Linked DNA regions of Homo sapiens. The protein of the gene in region 1 binds, or shares a complex with, the protein of each later gene. Each region holds a gene or a part of one and is shown in the gene's direction. Other genes may lie near its edges.

Evidence for each region.
Region 2: the proteins of SCARB2 (region 1) and GBA1 are in contact, whole or in part, in a cryo-EM structure (PDB 9FJF), measured with the Homo sapiens proteins. Residues at the interface, in NP_005497.1 of Homo sapiens: Lys161, Ala162, Tyr163, Gln164, Lys181, Glu183, Leu187, Phe191, Arg192; in NP_000148.2 of Homo sapiens: Leu130 (codon at 6,409), Asn131 (codon at 6,412), Ala134 (codon at 6,421), Ile169 (codon at 7,491), Glu190 (codon at 7,554), Lys194 (codon at 7,566), Leu195 (codon at 7,569), Pro430, Arg434, Ile445, Thr446, Asp448.

Annotation. Positions count from the first base shown.
Region 1 is NC_000004.12:76,209,604-76,220,050, reverse strand, and holds the start of SCARB2 (lysosome membrane protein 2), read left to right. Parts: upstream 1-6,226; 5' UTR 6,227-6,507; coding exon 6,508-6,624; intron 6,625-10,447.
Region 2 is NC_000001.11:155,238,250-155,246,090, reverse strand, and holds the start of GBA1 (lysosomal acid glucosylceramidase isoform 1 precursor), read left to right. Parts: upstream 1-4,841; 5' UTR 4,842-4,978; coding exon 4,979-5,005; intron 5,006-5,373; coding exon 5,374-5,461; intron 5,462-6,013; coding exon 6,014-6,205; intron 6,206-6,328; coding exon 6,329-6,475; intron 6,476-7,440; coding exon 7,441-7,574; intron 7,575-7,784; coding exon 7,785-7,841. UniProt on the Homo sapiens protein: Glucosylceramidase that catalyzes, within the lysosomal compartment, the hydrolysis of glucosylceramides/GlcCers (such as beta-D-glucosyl-(1<->1')-N-acylsphing-4-enine) into free ceramides (such as N-acylsphing-4-enine) and glucose.

The DNA of each region.
Region 1 (10,447 bases):
TCTGCTTAAGATAGCTTGCAGTGCAATTGAAGCAAACACTACTCATTAATATTCTGAAACGTTTTTCATTGACACTAAAAAGAAACAGTATTTATTTATGAAAGAACTGGAAATGCTTACAACTGTTGTAAAGTTAACTGAATAGCAGTCTTCTCTGAGGTTTGATGAGTATAGGAGGCTTCTAGGTAATCATTTCAGACTCTCAGGATATGTGGTGAGTGCAGTGGTTAGAAGTCATGCGGGGACCAGGTTAGTGGTGAGGGGCGGGGCTTATTTTTACCCTTTCCATAGTCTAATATCTAAGCCCCCCATTCCCCATTCCACTACTGCACCCCTATCTCTGGCCAAATATCTTCTCCCCACCACTCCAGGCTGACAAAGTCTGCCTCTACCCTCAGACAGTCCCCTCTTCACTCTCCATCCCCCCTTTCTCCCCTCAGAAAGAGATGCTGAGTAAACCTGGCTTTCTCGTTTATACAGCTTCTCCCCATGGAACACATCATTAAAGAATAACTGTGACCTCTCGTGTTGTTTATTTAGCCCTGATTTCACAACATGCAGGAAATCAGACAGCCTTGATATTTCACAATATGCTGGCTTTGCCACAGTGAGTTTAAACCCAACCCAAGCTTCATTTGCTTCTAGAAAGTACCATCAAAGTACCTCAAGTGAGAACAGACTAGAATACATTTCACGTCAGAATATACATTAGATATATTGCAAAGTATATTTTTGGCCACCGGACTGGCAACTCCTTCCTGGCTCTCCATTCTAGTTCAACATCAGGTTCAGGCAGAGGCATTGTCTCCCACACACACTAATTCCAACCTGTGCCCCTCCTGGATGCCCAGGTCACCATGAGTATTCCAGTGCCATTGCTTATTTTTATTTTTATTTTTTGCAATTTTCACTGCTTTCCTTTTACTCTTAATAAGCATGAGGCCAGAAGTCCCAAGCAGTGGCTAAGGGGTTAAGAGCCTGGCTAAAGCATCTGACTGACTTGGATTTAGTAATACCTTTGCTTCCTACTGGCCAGTAACATTGGACTACTTAGTCAATCTCTGTGTGCCTCAGTTTCCTTATCCTTAAAATAGAATGTCTACATCATAGGGCATTGTAAGGAGTAAATGAAGTAATGCAAGCCCACTGTCTAGCATAGTGCTTGTACAAGTACTATGTACAAGTAGCAGATAATATTGCTGACATATTCACCCTTTTTGCCCACTATATTTTTCTCCTCTTTGATCTCCTGACTCCTCGCCCTCCAACCACACATTCTATTAGTTAGACAACACTACGCTTGTGTTTTCAGGAAAGGGAAGAGAAAAAGGTGAATAGGATATCTCCTCCTAGTTCCGTGTTTCAATAAGTCTGCATTATTAGGGGAACAAAAAGGAAAATAAGAATTTGAAGAGGGGAATTCTCATTTTCCCATAACCCCAAACAAAATAAAAACCAAACCAAACCAAAACAAACTGGAAAAGATTCCCCTAGTTGGGGGTGCAAAGATGATAATGAGGAAGCCATGAGGTCTTCTTGATCGGAGGAGGCGGTAGACAGGGACATGGGTAACTTCACAGAGAGTCCCTGTGGCCTGGCACAGGTGCATGTGATATAATATAAATGGTATATGAGCTCTCCTCTGGGATATGTAAGCCTATCTGCATAAAGCAGTTCTGTAATGTAAGAACTTTGGAATGATGGGTAGGGGAGGAGGGAGGAGAGAGTAATTTTTTCTTATGGAGGCTGTATTGCTCAGGATTTAGGATGCCCCACAAACATTTAGGAATAACATATGTCAAATCACTAGGGTGTGATGGTACATTTTATAGATCACCTTCAATAAGAAGAAAGCCAAGACTTTTAGAAGTATCTTGGAGCCTGACCTGTCCCAAAGTAGGCAAGGCCTAGGGCCATTTCCATTCAAACTCCTGGGATCAAGTGATTCTCCTGCCTTGGCTTCCCAAAATGCTGGGATTACAGGCATGAGCCACCTGGCCCGGCCTGTGGTGTATTTTAAATGTTTATATTTAACACATTAACACTTTGAACATAAAAGTATACAATGACTACATCATTAAACTCATTTGAGTATAGTATCAACATTCTAAATTTAAGGTAGAGCCCAAAGAGCCCTCTTGCTTCCCCTCGATAGCCCTTAGAGTCTGTGAAGAAAGCTCTTTTTCTAAGTCCCGAATGATTGCATAATTTCAACAGGCACCAGCAATCATTCATTAAGTGTACTTGTTCTTCTCAGATAAAGTCTTCTGATTTTAGGTATAGAGAGATCACCGTATCTCCTTGCCACAGCATCAGTCTCCTCATTTTCCGCCCTTGTCTGTTTGTGTTGCTATAACAATACCTGAGATTGGGTAGTGAAAAGAGGTTTATTTGGCTCATGGTTCTGCAGGCTGGACAAGACGCACGGCACAGACATCTGCATTGGATGAGGGCCTCAGGCTGCTTCCACTCCTGGGAAGGCAGAAAGGGAGCACACCTGTGTGAGGCACATGGGCAGAGAGGAAGCTAGAGAGAGAAGGAGGAGGTGCCAGCTCTTTTCAACAACCCGCTCTCTGACAACTCACTCATGCCTGAGGGAGGCATTAATCTATTCATGAACAATCTCTCCTCAGGACCCAAACACCTCCCATTAGGCCCCACCTCCAACACTGGGGATCAAATTTCAACATGAGATTTGGAGGGAACACAAATCCAAACCATAGCAGAGAAGTCACCAGGAAGAGTCCTGATTGTCTCCCTGCCCTGGCATCAGCCTCCTCATCTAAACTCTGGGAGCAGTAACCCCTTCCCAAGCTGTCTGCCCCTCCAGAGTGTGTTCAGGGTTATTAGTGGCTGGCAAGCAGGGGCTACTCCCTGGATGAGAGGGCAAAGTCTCTCATAGGGTGAGATGATCCTGTGGCAATAAACTAACAATGCCAATTAGCGGTGCAGACATGTCCTATAGATCAGAAATGAGGAGGAAGTCCCAAAGGGCATTGAGAAACTTAAATCTGGATTTTGGGGCTTTGTGTCAAAAGCTTCTGAACATAGCTGTGGGTAGAGAAGATGGAACTGAACAGAAAGACAGCCAGGCCAGCTGCTAAAAAGTTATGCCAGCCTCGGTGATAAGACAGAGATTACTGTGGGATCACAGACTGCTATTTTGGGAACATACATTATTTTCTTAAAAGCTGTTTATATTTTCTGTAATTAGGTCCTTTTTGTTCTGTCTTATGTTAACACATTTAAAAATGCTAGCCTGGTCAGCTGTGTTAAGAAGAACCAAGAAAGAGATTTTCATTCGGCTTGTCCAGAGTTTTAAAGGGGAAGTGGCTTACTAACCGCCTGACATAGTGGAAACAGAGTGAGATCCTCAGAGAGCAGGTAAACTGAGGGCAACTTGAGCTGTAAACCCTTGTTTAGAAACTCTCCCACACTAAGATACATTTATCAAATTTGTCTCCATCTCTCCATCCCCACAGTCTGTTACTGTCCTGGTGGCCCAGACAAGAGAGAAGAAGGGACCTCAATGAACAATGAAAAGGAAGAGTACCCTGGGATTGGTGGTCCAGGGATGGGAGGAGTGGGTACCTATGGAGTTTGCCCTCCAGAATGGAGCCCGCAAACAGAAAATCTGATTGTAGCAGTCAGAGAGTAGGGGGTGGAAGTTCAGTGTGAGCATGAACTTCTGAGTGCCAAAGTACCTAGGCAGGCAAGTTACCAAATTTTTTTTTCTAGTTAGGGAAGGAGAGGACATATAGATGACAGGAGGACTTCAACCAATGCCTAGGTAGGGGACATGTGAGGGTTAGTGGGCTAGCATTGCTCCTTAAGCAAACTGGGGCACAGAGCAGAGTTAATGTAGCTAACTGAAACTTAACAGCAGAGAAGAGGCAGGATTAGGGGAAGAGAAAGGCTGCCGATTGTGGACACCTGAGGACTGGAGACCACCCACCCATCAGGCTGGGGACAGTTGAATCATTCAGGACCCCACCAGGTTCTATTTGAACACAGGACTGGTCCTCTGGGGCTGCTGCTTGAAGAGCTTTGGTAGCTACAAAATGTCCCAGCCTCAGTTCTGCCCTTACCATCTGCTCCAGTTATCTACTGAGTAACCTACCACACCAACACTCAGTGGCTTAAACAACAACAATCCTTTATTTTGCATTTTGAGCAGGGCTCAGCAGGGACCACTCACCTCTGCTCTGTAATGTCTAGGGCCTGTGACTCAAAAGGCTAGGGACAGCTGGGGACTGGTGGGACATTTCTCTTCCTACAGACTCAGGGCTTCTCCCCACAGTCTTTCCCATGTTCTCTGCAGCAGTCTCCGGGTAGCTGAACTTAGGGGTGACTTGAGGCTCCAAGAGCAAGAATTTGCAAAGGCCCCAGCAGAAGTTGCAAGGCATTTATGATCTAGCTTCAGAAGTTCCAGGATATGGTCATTTCCACTGTATTCTATTGGTTTAACAAATTGCTAAAACCTGCCCAAATTCAAAGCGAGAAAGTATAGACCCCACCTCTCAACGAAAGGAGTAACAAATAATTTGCCACCATTTTTAAACCATCATGCTATCTCACCAAGTCCTCAACAAAGCCTCCTAACTGATTTGCTGTCCTCAGATTCTCATTAGTGACAGATCGGGATGCAGCAATGCGCAGAGTAGAAAAAGTGAGGGTTTTGGAAGCCAACAGCCAGCCCTACATCCTGGTTCAAGCAGGATCCACCACTCAGCAACCAGTTGAGCTTGTTAGGTTACTTAACTCAGAGCCCCAGTGTTCTTGAGTGTAAAATGAGGATAATACACTATAGTTGCCAAGAAAATGTACTTCTTGGATCTTGCAGTGTAGATAGCATAACTGACCAATGGCTCCGCCTCAACTGCTGAGCTCTGCTGAAATCCATACCCTGATATTTATCCCTAGGTTGCTGCAAAGGCCAGCTTCCTAAGGCTGCTCCCAGCTCATGACTGAGCACAGCAGGGATACTAAGGCGGGCCTCTTTCTGGGAGATGCCAGACTTCTGGGACAAGCCCATTTGGCTAAAGGATTCCCCACCCCAATGGCCTTGCTGAACTTTTTATACATGGACTGTATATATATCAAATGCTTCCTTCCACCCAACCTTCCTTCCTTGCTTGCCTCTTTCCTTCACAAGGATCACACCTGCATCCCAGGTCCAGCTCCCTGTTTTCCCTCAAAACTCTCTTGCATAGTACCCCCATCTGGGACTGTTTCTGGAGGACTGGGACAAACACAACCTCCTATTCATAGGACTGCCAAGGGTATTAAATGAGTAGAACTGTGCAAAGAAACTAGTAAAGGGCTGGCGTAGAAGAAACACTCATTTAACGAACACTTCTTGAGTCCTGGCTGTGTGCAGGTCTTGGTCCTGGGTGTCTGGGACACCACAGTGAGCAAAGCAGGCAAGAACACCAGCGATGCCTGCTTTAAGCTCCTTCCCAACTTCCACATCTTTAACAGGATACCAAGAGCCCTTCAAAGTCTGACCTCTTGGGGCCTCAACACCTCCGACTCCACCCCCTGAACACCTGAGCCTACAGTCAAAAGGAACTTCCTTCTTGCTTCCTACAGGTTTTGCTCTTTCACCCCCAATGCCTTTGCTCACCGTTTCCTTCTCCGTGAAATGCCTCCTCCTCCCTTTTTTGCACATCTTCCATTCTTGCACATGCCCCTTACGTGACAAACTTATGCATCCCCCAGGCCCCAGTTCAATGTGGGGCCCTAGGTCATCCAGGCAGAACATGCTTGCTGGCATGATCTCAGCAGGCACCTGGTAGAAGCACTTGCTACATTGTGTTGTAATTGCGGTAACGGTGTCCCCGCTAACTTGCGAGCGCCTCTAGAGCAGGGGAATGTCCCAGCCACCTTGAATCCCCAGCGCGTGGCCCATGGGAGGCCCTCAGACCTATCTGCGGAATGAGTAAATGAGTGTGTGAACCAGGTTCGGCAATTTCGGTGGGGCGAGCGCTGGGCCTGCGGTGCAGGGCGCTGGGAGCGGCCAGGCCGGGCCTGGCTCAGGCGCCGCAGCCACTCAGGGCCACCGGGGACCGGCCGGGGAGGGCGCGGGCCGAATCACTGCCGCCGCCGCAGGGCACATGACTGCGGCCTCCGCCCCCGCCCGCCTCCCCGCGCAGTCGCCGGCGGTTGCCTCGCGGGGTTGCGGCGAGCCCGGCCCGCGAACGTCACGTCCCTGCGCGCTCCCTGCACTCTCCCGAGCTGCGCTAGGCGGGCGCCACGGCTGCCCGGCGAAGGAAACCGAAACCGAGTCCGGGCCCGTCCCTCCGCGGCCCCATCCGCCCGGTGCACCCGGGGCCGCGCTCGCCAGGCCGCGGAGCCCAGAGCTGCGCGCACGAACCGTGCGCCGGGAGGGCGTGGGCGTGGCGCCGAAGGGTCCCGGGTCTTCGACGCCTCTGCGGCGGCTCCTCCCTCCTTGCAGTTGGATCCCTGGCGGGTGCGGCCCGGCCCGGCCCGTGAGCGGCGCACAGAATGGGCCGATGCTGCTTCTACACGGCGGGGACGTTGTCCCTGCTCCTGCTGGTGACCAGCGTCACGCTGCTGGTGGCCCGGGTCTTCCAGAAGGCTGTAGACCAGAGTATCGAGAAGGTGAGGCGGGGCGGGCTGTGTGTGTGTTGTGGAGTCGTCCAGCTCACCCTCCCATCCCTGCTGCTACATCTTGTATGGGAAAGACCAGCACTCAGGCAGACCCTCCGCGCTAGAGCTCTTCTTGCGTCCCTGTCTTCCAGGGCTTGGTAGGCGAGGGTTAAAGAAGGATGAGGAAGGATGGAGCCGACTCTGTTCCCTTTACAGTGATAAGTAAGGCTATGGATCCTGACTTTTAAAAAGGCCTTCGGTTGTGTTCTGTCGTTTGCATCTCTCCCCACTCCTTCCGTCTACACCCCAATCTCAGGTGGGCCCAAACTTGTTTCCTTCCCACTTCATGAAGAAACAGAACTGAATGAAAGACACCGCAGAAGAGGCAGGTTATGTTGTCTGCTTGCTGTAGCCTTTGAAGTGGTGTGCGCCTGGGGATGAGACGTGGGTGTGCGGTCTATTGTGTTCTTGCCCTCTTGGGCTGGGCAGGGGCAGTTGGTAGCTGGGCCAGTCCTTTAGGCTGGGTGACAATTCATCCATCAGTCTTTGCTGAACGCTGACTTAGTGGCTTTGTATCTTGTACCAACAGTCTGTGTTGCTTTGTCTCACCATGAATTCTTGTTTTTCTCAAACGGCCATAATTTTCAGGCACAGATGCATTTAGATACCCTACAAGAATCTGAACTTGTCTCTTCCTCTAGATGATTGGGCTGGAGAGCCAGTCCTTTAAGAAGACTTCATCTTTTGATTTCACTGGTCATTTCATCTGCCCTTTCCCCCACATCCACCAAGCTGTGTCAAAAGAGGAACAAAAGAGAATTACTGGGATCATTTTTTCCTTAAAAAAGAAAAATAATCACTGGAGCAGCAGCCTTTCTTGTTAGCATCCATAACTGCACGCTTCATTTCTCCCACTGGTCTGCACTTGCTGCGGCCAGATAAAAAAGCCCAGGCCTAGTCTACTTTGAATCACTGCACTCTCCAGTCAGTAAAGCTATTTTATTCCAGGTGGCAATGGATATCTTCCTTTAACTGAGTTTCCAAAAGTAATTAAGTGAGTACCTGAAATCTGGCAGTTAAAGGCAGTTTTTCAAAAAGCACCATGGCAAAGCATAATGTAATTTTTAAAGTTCACATTGCCAAGGGAAGACAAGGCCCACTGTCTGAGCGTCTCGAGGGTCAGTTTCCTTTGAGCAATCATGTTCAAGGAAAAAAGAAACTGAATCCTTTCTCCACTCCTGTCCATGTCCAAATCCATGGTGAGCTGTGTTTGAGGATGTAAACTCTTGCTTTGGGTGACTAGAGTAAAGCAATCCAATTATAGTAAATATGTGAGTTTTCTTATATGGCCTTGAAAGGCTGTTTCAAGGAGCCCTATAGGATGAGTGATCTTCCCCGTGGTTCCCATATAGCCAGCCCTTAGATTCTCTGTGTGTCTCCATTTCTCTGGGTGAGGGGGTGGCTGTAAGGCAACTTGGCTGGGGCCTGAGTTTGTGTTGATATTTCCAAGTGTTTTTCTCCATGAGGAATGGACTCTGTTCTGATAAGTAATAGTACAGGGAAGTGGACTTTCAGAGCTGCTCAATCCCAGCTAAGGAGGACTGCACGGTGTATTGTATGAAACTAAAGGACAGGGCTAGTTTCAGTGGGCAGGTGTGGAAATACTGTTGTCATTAGAGGTAAGTCACACATCGCTATTCTGCTTTTTCCTGGATTACCTGTAGGGTGGTAGGTAGCATGGGACAGTGGGAAAGATTGAGGATGTTACACTCCTGGGCATGAAACCTAGCTTCCACTATGTCCCAGCTCGGTGACCGTGGGCTGTTTAATCTTACTTGATTCATGTTTTCCCCATCTGTAAATAGGGATAATAAGGACTAACGATCACATCTGCTTTGTCAAATAATTCTTATAACCTTAAGGTGTGATCTTTCTGGGATATAGTTAGTGCTTAATAGGTGATAGCAACTTTATTTTTATTAGAAGCCACACAAAGAAAATACGTGAGATTTGGAGTCAGATTCCATATGTTCAAATCCTATCCTTGCCAGTATAAGCTTTATGACTTACGTCAAATAACTTACTTGGTCCTCAATTTCATTGCTTGTAAAACTGGGGATATGAGCTGTTAGCTAACTTGGGCACAGTGATGCATTTACCATGAAACTCGCAAAGTTAAGCTTTGGGTCTCTCACTTGCACAGACCCTTGCGAAGCCCTGTACCTCATTCTATATCCCAAATTTTCTTTTTTCTTAAGAAGGACCCTTCAAATTGTATAAGCTTCAGGACCCACAAAACCTGGATTTGTCTCTGCATGTGTATTATTGTAGGACCAAGTATAAAGCACTTAGCATAGTATCAGGCACAGAATAGGTAATCAATATGTGGCAGTCATCTTTATTGCCACTAGTATTACTATGGGAGAATTCATTCATAACTTGATTCTAATGTAGTTATAATATAATCTACTCTGATATTTCCAGTTCTTTGTTTTTTCATTTGAAGATTGTCTATGCCCCGACTTGTCTATGTCAAAAAGGGAAGAGGGAAAAGGGATGAAATTCAAATGAGTAGGTGTGGGAAGCTTAGTAAGAGAATTCCTATCCAAAAAGTTGTCTCAAATGATAATTGTCCTTGAACCCTGCAGTGACCAGAGGTAACTGAAGAGAGACTTTTAATTTTGGCCAGTGAATATCGTGGAAGGAACCAAGACAATTTTGTTTCATTTTTGGCCTCAGTGGTGACTGCCTCGTATTGGGCAAGGCCTGTAATTGTTTCTGCTTCAATTTTCTCATTTGCAAGAGAGGCATAATAGTACTTCTCTTTTTCCCACACCCTCTTCCTAGGGGATATTGTGAGCATTAATAAGGCATTTCCTTACAAGCGTTTGGGCCTTCATGAAGAGAGAGCTTTGCAGAGACCCAGCAGTTCCTTTTCCTCCCTTAGGCCTGGAAAGGCAGGAGTTTACGTTACATTTCATCTGGTATCCCAGTGAACTGCCTTGACACCTAGCACAGTGCCTGAGATACATATTAAATGCCTCTTCACTCGCCTGTGATCATTTTAATAGAAAGAAGAGTGTCCTGAGAATCAGCAGAACTGAATCAAACATTTTTTTTCTGTCCCTAAGGATTTCTTGGACTAAGCTGAACAAGCACAGTGGCAAGTTATTTAATCCCTCAAATCCTAAGGATCCTCATTTTGAAAATAGGAACAATAAGGATAAGAATACTTAACTCAGAGTTGTCACAAGAATGAAATAATATGATATCTATAAAGCACCCAGCACAATGCCTCGCACAATGCCTGAACGTTAACAGTTGTTATGTCTTTAGCTATATTTGTCATCTGTGAATTGAAACTTATTATACAAGCTATGGTTCCTCTTAGCTCCAAACTTCTGAGATCCCATGACCTTTAAGAGCAGCTATGCAGTTCAGAATATTAAGTTTGCGCTCCTAATCTCTGCAGACGTGCTGGCAGGTTGACTGTCTCCCAGTAATAGGGATGCAGAACTGGCCACAGTCAGGGCTGGCCAACAAGGGATGGGATGGCAAGGGAACCAGTGGGAGACTGTTTACACCTTTGACTTCCTCTTCACAGGTCAAGGCAGGACTGTAGCATTAGGTCTCAGAGATGCAATGAACAGGACAAATACACTTCCCCTTCATCTGGACCTGAGGCTCTGGGCAAGTCAGTACCAGCTGGTTTCTTTTGGGAGCCATAGAAACTCTGGAGCTGTTCTACCGATTCCTCAAGAAGTAAAATATAGGCCAGGCGTGGTGGCTCACGCCTGTTATCCTAACACTTTGGGAGGCTGAATCGGGTGGATCA
Region 2 (7,841 bases), on another chromosome or scaffold:
ATCAGTCTTTCACTTTTCCCAGCAATCCATTCTCCACTCAGCAAAATGATGATAAAGCACGTCACATCAAGGCTCTGCCTCAATTTAATGGCTTCCCATTGTATTTAGAATCATCTCCAAACTCCCAGAGACTATGGTCAGCTACAATCTGGCCCACCTTCTGTTCCAGCCAAATTTCCTCACAGCACAAGGACGTTTGCACCTGCTGTTTTCCAAGCATGAAACCCTTGGCCCCTATATCTGGTGCTATCACCTAATATCAGGTTTTAGCTCCATTCTCACCATTTCAGTGAGCACCCAATCCCCATCGCAGTCATTCTATCACATAGCCATGTTTTTTTTTGTTTGTTTGTTTCATTTTGTCTTTTTTTGAGACAGGGTCTTGCTTTGTTACCCAGGCTGGAGTGCAGTGGTGTGATTTGGGCTCACTGCAACCTTCCACCTCCTGGGTTCAAGCAATTCTCCTGCCTCAGCCTCCCGAGTAGCTGGGATTACAGGCGCCCGTCCCCATGCCCGCCCAGCTAAATTTTGTATTTTTAGAAGAGATAGGGTTTCACCATGTTGGCCAGGCGGGTCTCAAACTCCTGACCTCAAGTAATCCGCCTGCCTCGGTCTCCCAAAGTGCTGGGATTACAGGTGTGACTCACCGCGCCTGGCCACATACCCATGGTTTCAGCATGTATCACTATCTAAAATTATTATTTTTGTTTATATATCTGTGTCGTCCCATAGAATGTTAAGGTCCCAAGATCAGAAACTTGCTCATTGCAGTGGGTCTAACACTCAGTAGGTCCTCAACAAACATTCGTTAAGATACTAAAGTGGCAGGGTGGGGCCCTGTAAACAGCTTCAGGACCCTGTGCTTGTAGGGGCAACGTGGTGCCCTCCAAGGAAGACAGGGAGGTGGGAGGAGCACTGCCCAGAGATGGCGTCAGGCTGCAAGACTTCTTGAATAATTCAGCATCATAACAACCCAGCCTCAGGAAGGGATAGGGCACGGCCAGGACGAAACATTAGGAGGCGATGGACAATGGGATTCCCACGGGGCAGCTTCTGCGCACTGGACGTTCCCTAACCTGAGGCTCTCTAAAGAGGAAGGTTAGGAATCCTCTGAGCTTCGGTGGGCTGGACTCACTGTGGGAATTCAATCGCCCCCATCCACCAACAGTGTGCTGGCGGGAAAACGCCGACACGCATGCGTAGTTCTCGCGCCGGCTCCTCTCTCTCTCTCTCTCTCTCTCGCTCGCTCTCTCGCTCTCTCGCTCTCTCTCGCTCGCTCTCTCGCTCTCGCTCTCTCTCTCTCTCCGGCTCGCCAGCGACACTTGTTCGTTCAACTTGACCAATGAGACTTGAGGAAGGGCTCTGAGTCCCGCCTCTGCATGAGTGACCGTCTCTTTTCCAATCCAGGTCCCGCCCCGACTCCCCAGGGCTGCTTTTCTCGCGGCTGCGGGTGGTCGGGCTGCATCCTGCCTTCAGAGTCTTACTGCGCGGGGCCCCAGTCTCCAGTCCCGCCCAGGCGCCTTTGCAGGCTGCGGTGGGATTTCGTTTTGCCTCCGGTTGGGGCTGCTGTTTCTCTTCGCCGACGGTAGGCGTAATGAATATTTCGACCTTTGGATCTTAGCTGTCCCCTCCCTGCGTTCGCACTTAACCTTTTTCACCATTATTATTATTATTGTTATTATTATTATTTTTTGAGGGAGTCTCGCCCTGTCGCCCAGGCTGGAGTGTAATGGCGCCTTCTTGGCTCACTGCAACCTCCGCCTCCCGGGTTCAGGCGATTCTCCGACCTCAGCCTCCCAAGTACGTGGGATTACAGGCACCCGCCACCACGCACGGCTAATTTTTTGTATCTTTTAGTAGAGACGGGGTTTCACCATGTTGGTCAGGCTGGTCTCCAATTCCTGACCTCGTGATCCGCCCGCCTCGGCCTGCCAAACAGCTGTGATTATAGGCGTGAGCCACCGCGCCCGGCCAACCATCATTATTATTTTTAACGGTAAGGATGGTCAGATTTTACTAATGAAGAAGAGATTATAAAATCTTCAAGTCTTTATATCCACTTGCTTTTTGAGGGGTGGAGTGGGAAGAAGGTTATGTAATTCATACGTTCTTCAGACATGTGACAAACATTCACGGAGCCCGGCGACGAGCGTCGGGGTTGGGATTCGCACTGGAGCTGCAGATGGGTGCCAGGATGGACTGGTCCCTACCCTCCGCTTGAACCTAGGAGGCGGAGGTTGCAGTGAACCGAGATCGTGCCACTGCACTCCAGCCTGGGTGACAGAGATACTCCGTCTCAAAAAAAAAAACAAAACAAAAAACAAGCGGACTGGGCGCAGTGCCTCACCCTGTAATCCCAGCACTTTGCAAAGCCAAGGCGGGAGGATCCTTTGAGTTTAGGAGTTTGAGACCAACCTGCGCAACACAGTAAGACCCCGTCTCTACAAAAAATACAGAAATTAGCCAGGTGTGGTGGTGTGCGCCTATAGTCCCAGCTATTCTGGAGGCTGAGGTGGGAGGATTGCTTATTCTGGAGGCAGAGGTTGCACTGAGCCGAAATCAAGCTACTACACTCCATCCAGGGCAACATACGGAGACCCTGTCTCAAACAAACAAACAAAAAATTGCTCAGTACCTGGCCAAAAAAGAAGAGGCTCACTATGCAGAGGGGAAGTGGAAGGAGATGTTTGGACTTCTAAACTCAATAGAGCAGGAGAGGCAAATGTAGAATGTGCTCAGGAAATATCTGTGAGATGAATGAACTTGAGGGAAGTAAGGTACTAGATATTACCTGCCCTACCCAGAACAAATCCTGTGCAATGTTTCCTTGAAAAGTGAGAAGTCTGGAAGGGGTGGCTACTGACATAGTGAAGCAACTAGTTCAATTCTACAACTTGACAGCTACCCCTGTGCCAGGCTATCTACGAGGATACTTAGAATGCATAAGACATTCCTTCAAGGAACTCCAGGAACAGAGGCCTGACATGTTGCAATGTTTAGTGTCAAGCAGTGTACTAGAGACACATTATCACACTCAAACCTCACAACAATTCTGTGAGGTAGGAGTTATCACTCCCCTTTTATAGATGAAACAGAGGCTTAGAGTGATTGATTTATTGAAAGTCAAACAGCCAGTAAATGGTGTAGCCAGGATTCCAAACTTGCTGTCTCACTGAGACTGTACTTAATTACTGGAGGGACCGGGTGTGGTGGCTCATTGCTATAATCCCAACACCTTGGGAGGCTGAGGCTGGTGGATCACCTGAGGTCAGGGGTTCGAGACCAGCCTGGCCAACATGGTGAAACCCCATCTCTACTAAAAATACAAAAATTAGCTGGGCATGGTGGTGGGCTCCTGTAATCCCAGCTACTCAGGAGGCTGAGGCAGGGCAATTGCTTGAGCCGAGATCACACTGCACTCCAGCCTGGGCAACAGGGCAAGACTCTGTCTCAAAACCAAAAAAAAAAAAATTACTGGAGGAACCTAGAAGAAGAAATGATCAATTTTGCTTGGAGTGTATCTAGAAAGACTTCACTGAGATCATTTAAAGAACAAAAAGGATGGCTGGGGTCCAGCGCAGTGGCTCATGCCTGTAATCCCAGCACTTTCGGATACCAAGGCAGCAGATCACCTGAGGTCCAGAGTTTCAGACCAGCCTGGCCAACATAGTGAAACCCCATCTCTACTAAAAATAAAAAAATTAGCTGAGCATGTTGGAGGGCACCTGTAATCCCAGCTACTTGGGAGGCTGAGGCAGGAGAATCACTCGAACCCAGGAGGTGGAGGTTGCAGTGAGCCAAGATCACGCCACTGCACTCCAGCCTGGGCAACAGAGTGAGACTCTGTCTCAAAAAACAACAACAACAAAAAATACAAACAAGAGACAAGTAGTTCCCAGGTGCCTACCAAGTGGTCAGGCACTGCACTTACCTCACTGACTGCAGTAACCACCCTTTGAGGTTGTGGCATTGCCTCCATTTTCCAGGCAAGGAAATGGGCTGAGAGCTGGGATTAGTCAGGTCATGACTGTGTGTGCCACTCCCGCTAAATCTCATTTGATGTGGTTCATGAGGCCACACCATGGACAGCTTCCTCCTTGTGTCCACTGAGGATATGGCTTTGTACAACACTTTGGTTTTTGAACGACTTTACAAACCTCCCTGTCTTGTGAGGAAGGAAGAACAGTTATTACCATCTGCATCTGATGATGAAACAAGGGACGCTGCAGAGGAGCCGCACTGACCACTCCCTCCCTCCAGTCCTGTCATCCCACTGCCAGTGTCCCACCCTCTTGTGCCCTGCACTTCACTGGCTAATAACCCCCCTCACTTTTTCCTCTGTGAAGCCATCCTGGATAATTCCCCACCCACGAATGGTCCCTCCTCATCTCAGAGAGCTCTCCATGCACACCTGTTACCGTTTCTGTCTTTATCTGTAAATATCTGTGTGTCTGACTTCCATGCCTCACACACCTCTATAGGGCAAAGACTGTCTTAAACATCTTGGTAGTGTCAGTATTTTGCACAGTGAAGTTTTTTTTTTTAAATTATATCAGCTTTATTTGTACCTTTTTGACATTTCTATCAAAAAAGAAGTGTGCCTGCTGTGGTTCCCATCCTCTGGGATTTAGGAGCCTCTACCCCATTCTCCATGCAAATCTGTGTTCTAGGCTCTTCCTAAAGTTGTCACCCATACATGCCCTCCAGAGTTTTATAGGGCATATAATCTGTAACAGATGAGAGGAAGCCAATTGCCCTTTAGAAATATGGCTGTGATTGCCTCACTTCCTGTGTCATGTGACGCTCCTAGTCATCACATGACCCATCCACATCGGGAAGCCGGAATTACTTGCAGGGCTAACCTAGTGCCTATAGCTAAGGCAGGTACCTGCATCCTTGTTTTTGTTTAGTGGATCCTCTATCCTTCAGAGACTCTGGAACCCCTGTGGTCTTCTCTTCATCTAATGACCCTGAGGGGATGGAGTTTTCAAGTCCTTCCAGAGAGGTAAGAGAGAGAGCTCCCAATCAGCATTGTCACAGTGCTTCTGGAATCCTGGCACTGGAATTTAATGAATGACAGACTCTCTTTGAATCCAGGGCCATCATGGCTCTTTGAGCAAGGCACAGATGGAGGGAGGGGTCGAAGTTGAAATGGGTGGGAAGAGTGGTGGGGAGCATCCTGATTTGGGGTGGGCAGAGAGTTGTCATCAGAAGGGTTGCAGGGAGAGCTGCACCCAGGTTTCTGTGGGCCTTGTCCTAATGAATGTGGGAGACCGGGCCATGGGCACCCAAAGGCAGCTAAGCCCTGCCCAGGAGAGTAGTTGAGGGGTGGAGAGGGGCTTGCTTTTCAGTCATTCCTCATTCTGTCCTCAGGAATGTCCCAAGCCTTTGAGTAGGGTAAGCATCATGGCTGGCAGCCTCACAGGATTGCTTCTACTTCAGGCAGTGTCGTGGGCATCAGGTGAGTGAGTCAAGGCAGTGGGGAGGTAGCACAGAGCCTCCCTTCTGCCTCATAGTCCTTTGGTAGCCTTCCAGTAAGCTGGTGGTAGACTTTTAGTAGGTGCTCAATAAATCCTTTTGAGTGACTGAGACCAACTTTGGGGTGAGGATTTTGTTTTTTTTCTTTTGAAACAGAGTCTTACTCTGTTGCCTGGGCTGGAGTGCAGTGGTGCAATTTTGGCTCATTCCAACCTCTGCCTCCCAGATTCAAGCGATTCTCTTGCTTCAGCTTCCCAGGTAGCTGGGATTACAGGCGGCCACCACTACGCCCAGCTAATTTTTGTATTTTTAGTAGAGACGGGGTTTCACCATGCTGGCAAGGCAGGTCTCAAACTCCTCACCTCAGGTGATCCGCCCACCTCGGCCTCCTAAAGTGCTAGGATTACAGGTGTGAGCCCCTGCGCCCGGCCAAGGGGTGAGGAATTTTGAAACCGTGTTCAGTCTCTCCTAGCAGATGTGTCCATTCTCCATGTCTTCATCAGACCTCACTCTGCTTGTACTCCCTCCCTCCCAGGTGCCCGCCCCTGCATCCCTAAAAGCTTCGGCTACAGCTCGGTGGTGTGTGTCTGCAATGCCACATACTGTGACTCCTTTGACCCCCCGACCTTTCCTGCCCTTGGTACCTTCAGCCGCTATGAGAGTACACGCAGTGGGCGACGGATGGAGCTGAGTATGGGGCCCATCCAGGCTAATCACACGGGCACAGGTAACCATTACACCCCTCACCCCCTGGGCCAGGCTGGGTCCTCCTAGAGGTAAATGGTGTCAGTGATCACCATGGAGTTTCCCGCTGGGTACTGATACCCTTATTCCCTGTGGATGTCCTCAGGCCTGCTACTGACCCTGCAGCCAGAACAGAAGTTCCAGAAAGTGAAGGGATTTGGAGGGGCCATGACAGATGCTGCTGCTCTCAACATCCTTGCCCTGTCACCCCCTGCCCAAAATTTGCTACTTAAATCGTACTTCTCTGAAGAAGGTGAGGAGGAAGGGGACAAGATGACATAGAGCCATTGAAACTTTTCGTTTTTCTTTTCTTTTTTTAAAATTTTTTTGAGGCAGAATCTCACTCTGCCCATTCTGTCGGCGAGACAGGAGTGCAGTGGTGTGATCTCCCCTCACAGCAACCTCTGCCTCCCAGGCTATAGTGATTCTCCTGCCTCAGCCTCCTGAGTAGCTGGAATTATAGGCGTGCGCCACTACCACCTGGCTAATTTTTGTATTTTTAGTAGAGACAGGGTTTCATCATGTTGACCAGGCTAGTCTTAAACTCCTGACCTCAAATGATATACCTGCCTTGGCCTCCCGAAGTGCTGGAATTACAAGTGTGAGCCACCGAGCCCAGCAGACACTTTTCTTTTTTCTTTTTTTTTTTTTGAGACAGAGTCTCGCACTGTCACCCAGGCTGGAGTGCAGTGGCACAATCTCAGCTCACTGCAACCTCCACCTCCCGGGTTCAGGTGATTCTCCTGTCTCAGCCTCTCGAGTACCTGGGATTACAGGTGCCTGCCACCACGCCCGGCTAATTTTTTGTATTTTTAGTAGAGACAGGGTTTCACTATGTTGGCCAGGATGATTGCGAACTCCTGACCTCGTGATCTGCCCACATCGGCCTCCCAAAGTGCTGGGATTACATGCGTGAGCCACTGACACTTTTCTTTGCCCTTTCTTTGGACCCTGACTTCTGCCCATCCCTGACATTTGGTTCCTGTTTTAATGCCCTGTGAAATAAGATTTCACCGCCTATCATCTGCTAACTGCTACGGACTCAGGCTCAGAAAGGCCTGCGCTTCACCCAGGTGCCAGCCTCCACAGGTTCCAACCCAGGAGCCCAAGTTCCCTTTGGCCCTGACTCAGACACTATTAGGACTGGCAAGTGATAAGCAGAGTCCCATACTCTCCTATTGACTCGGACTACCATATCTTGATCATCCTTTTCTGTAGGAATCGGATATAACATCATCCGGGTACCCATGGCCAGCTGTGACTTCTCCATCCGCACCTACACCTATGCAGACACCCCTGATGATTTCCAGTTGCACAACTTCAGCCTCCCAGAGGAAGATACCAAGCTCAAGGTAGGCATTCTAGCTTTTTCAGGCCCTGAGGGCCCTGATGTCTGGGGGTTGAGAAACTGTAGGGTAGGTCTGCTTGTACAGACATTTTGTCCCCTGCTGTTTTGTCCTGGGGGTGGGAGGGTGGAGGCTAATGGCTGAACCGGATGCACTGGTTGGGCTAGTATGTGTTCCAACTCTGGGTGCTTCTCTCTTCACTACCTTTGTCTCTAGATACCCCTGATTCACCGAGCCCTGCAGTTGGCCCAGCGTCCCGTTTCACTCCTTGCC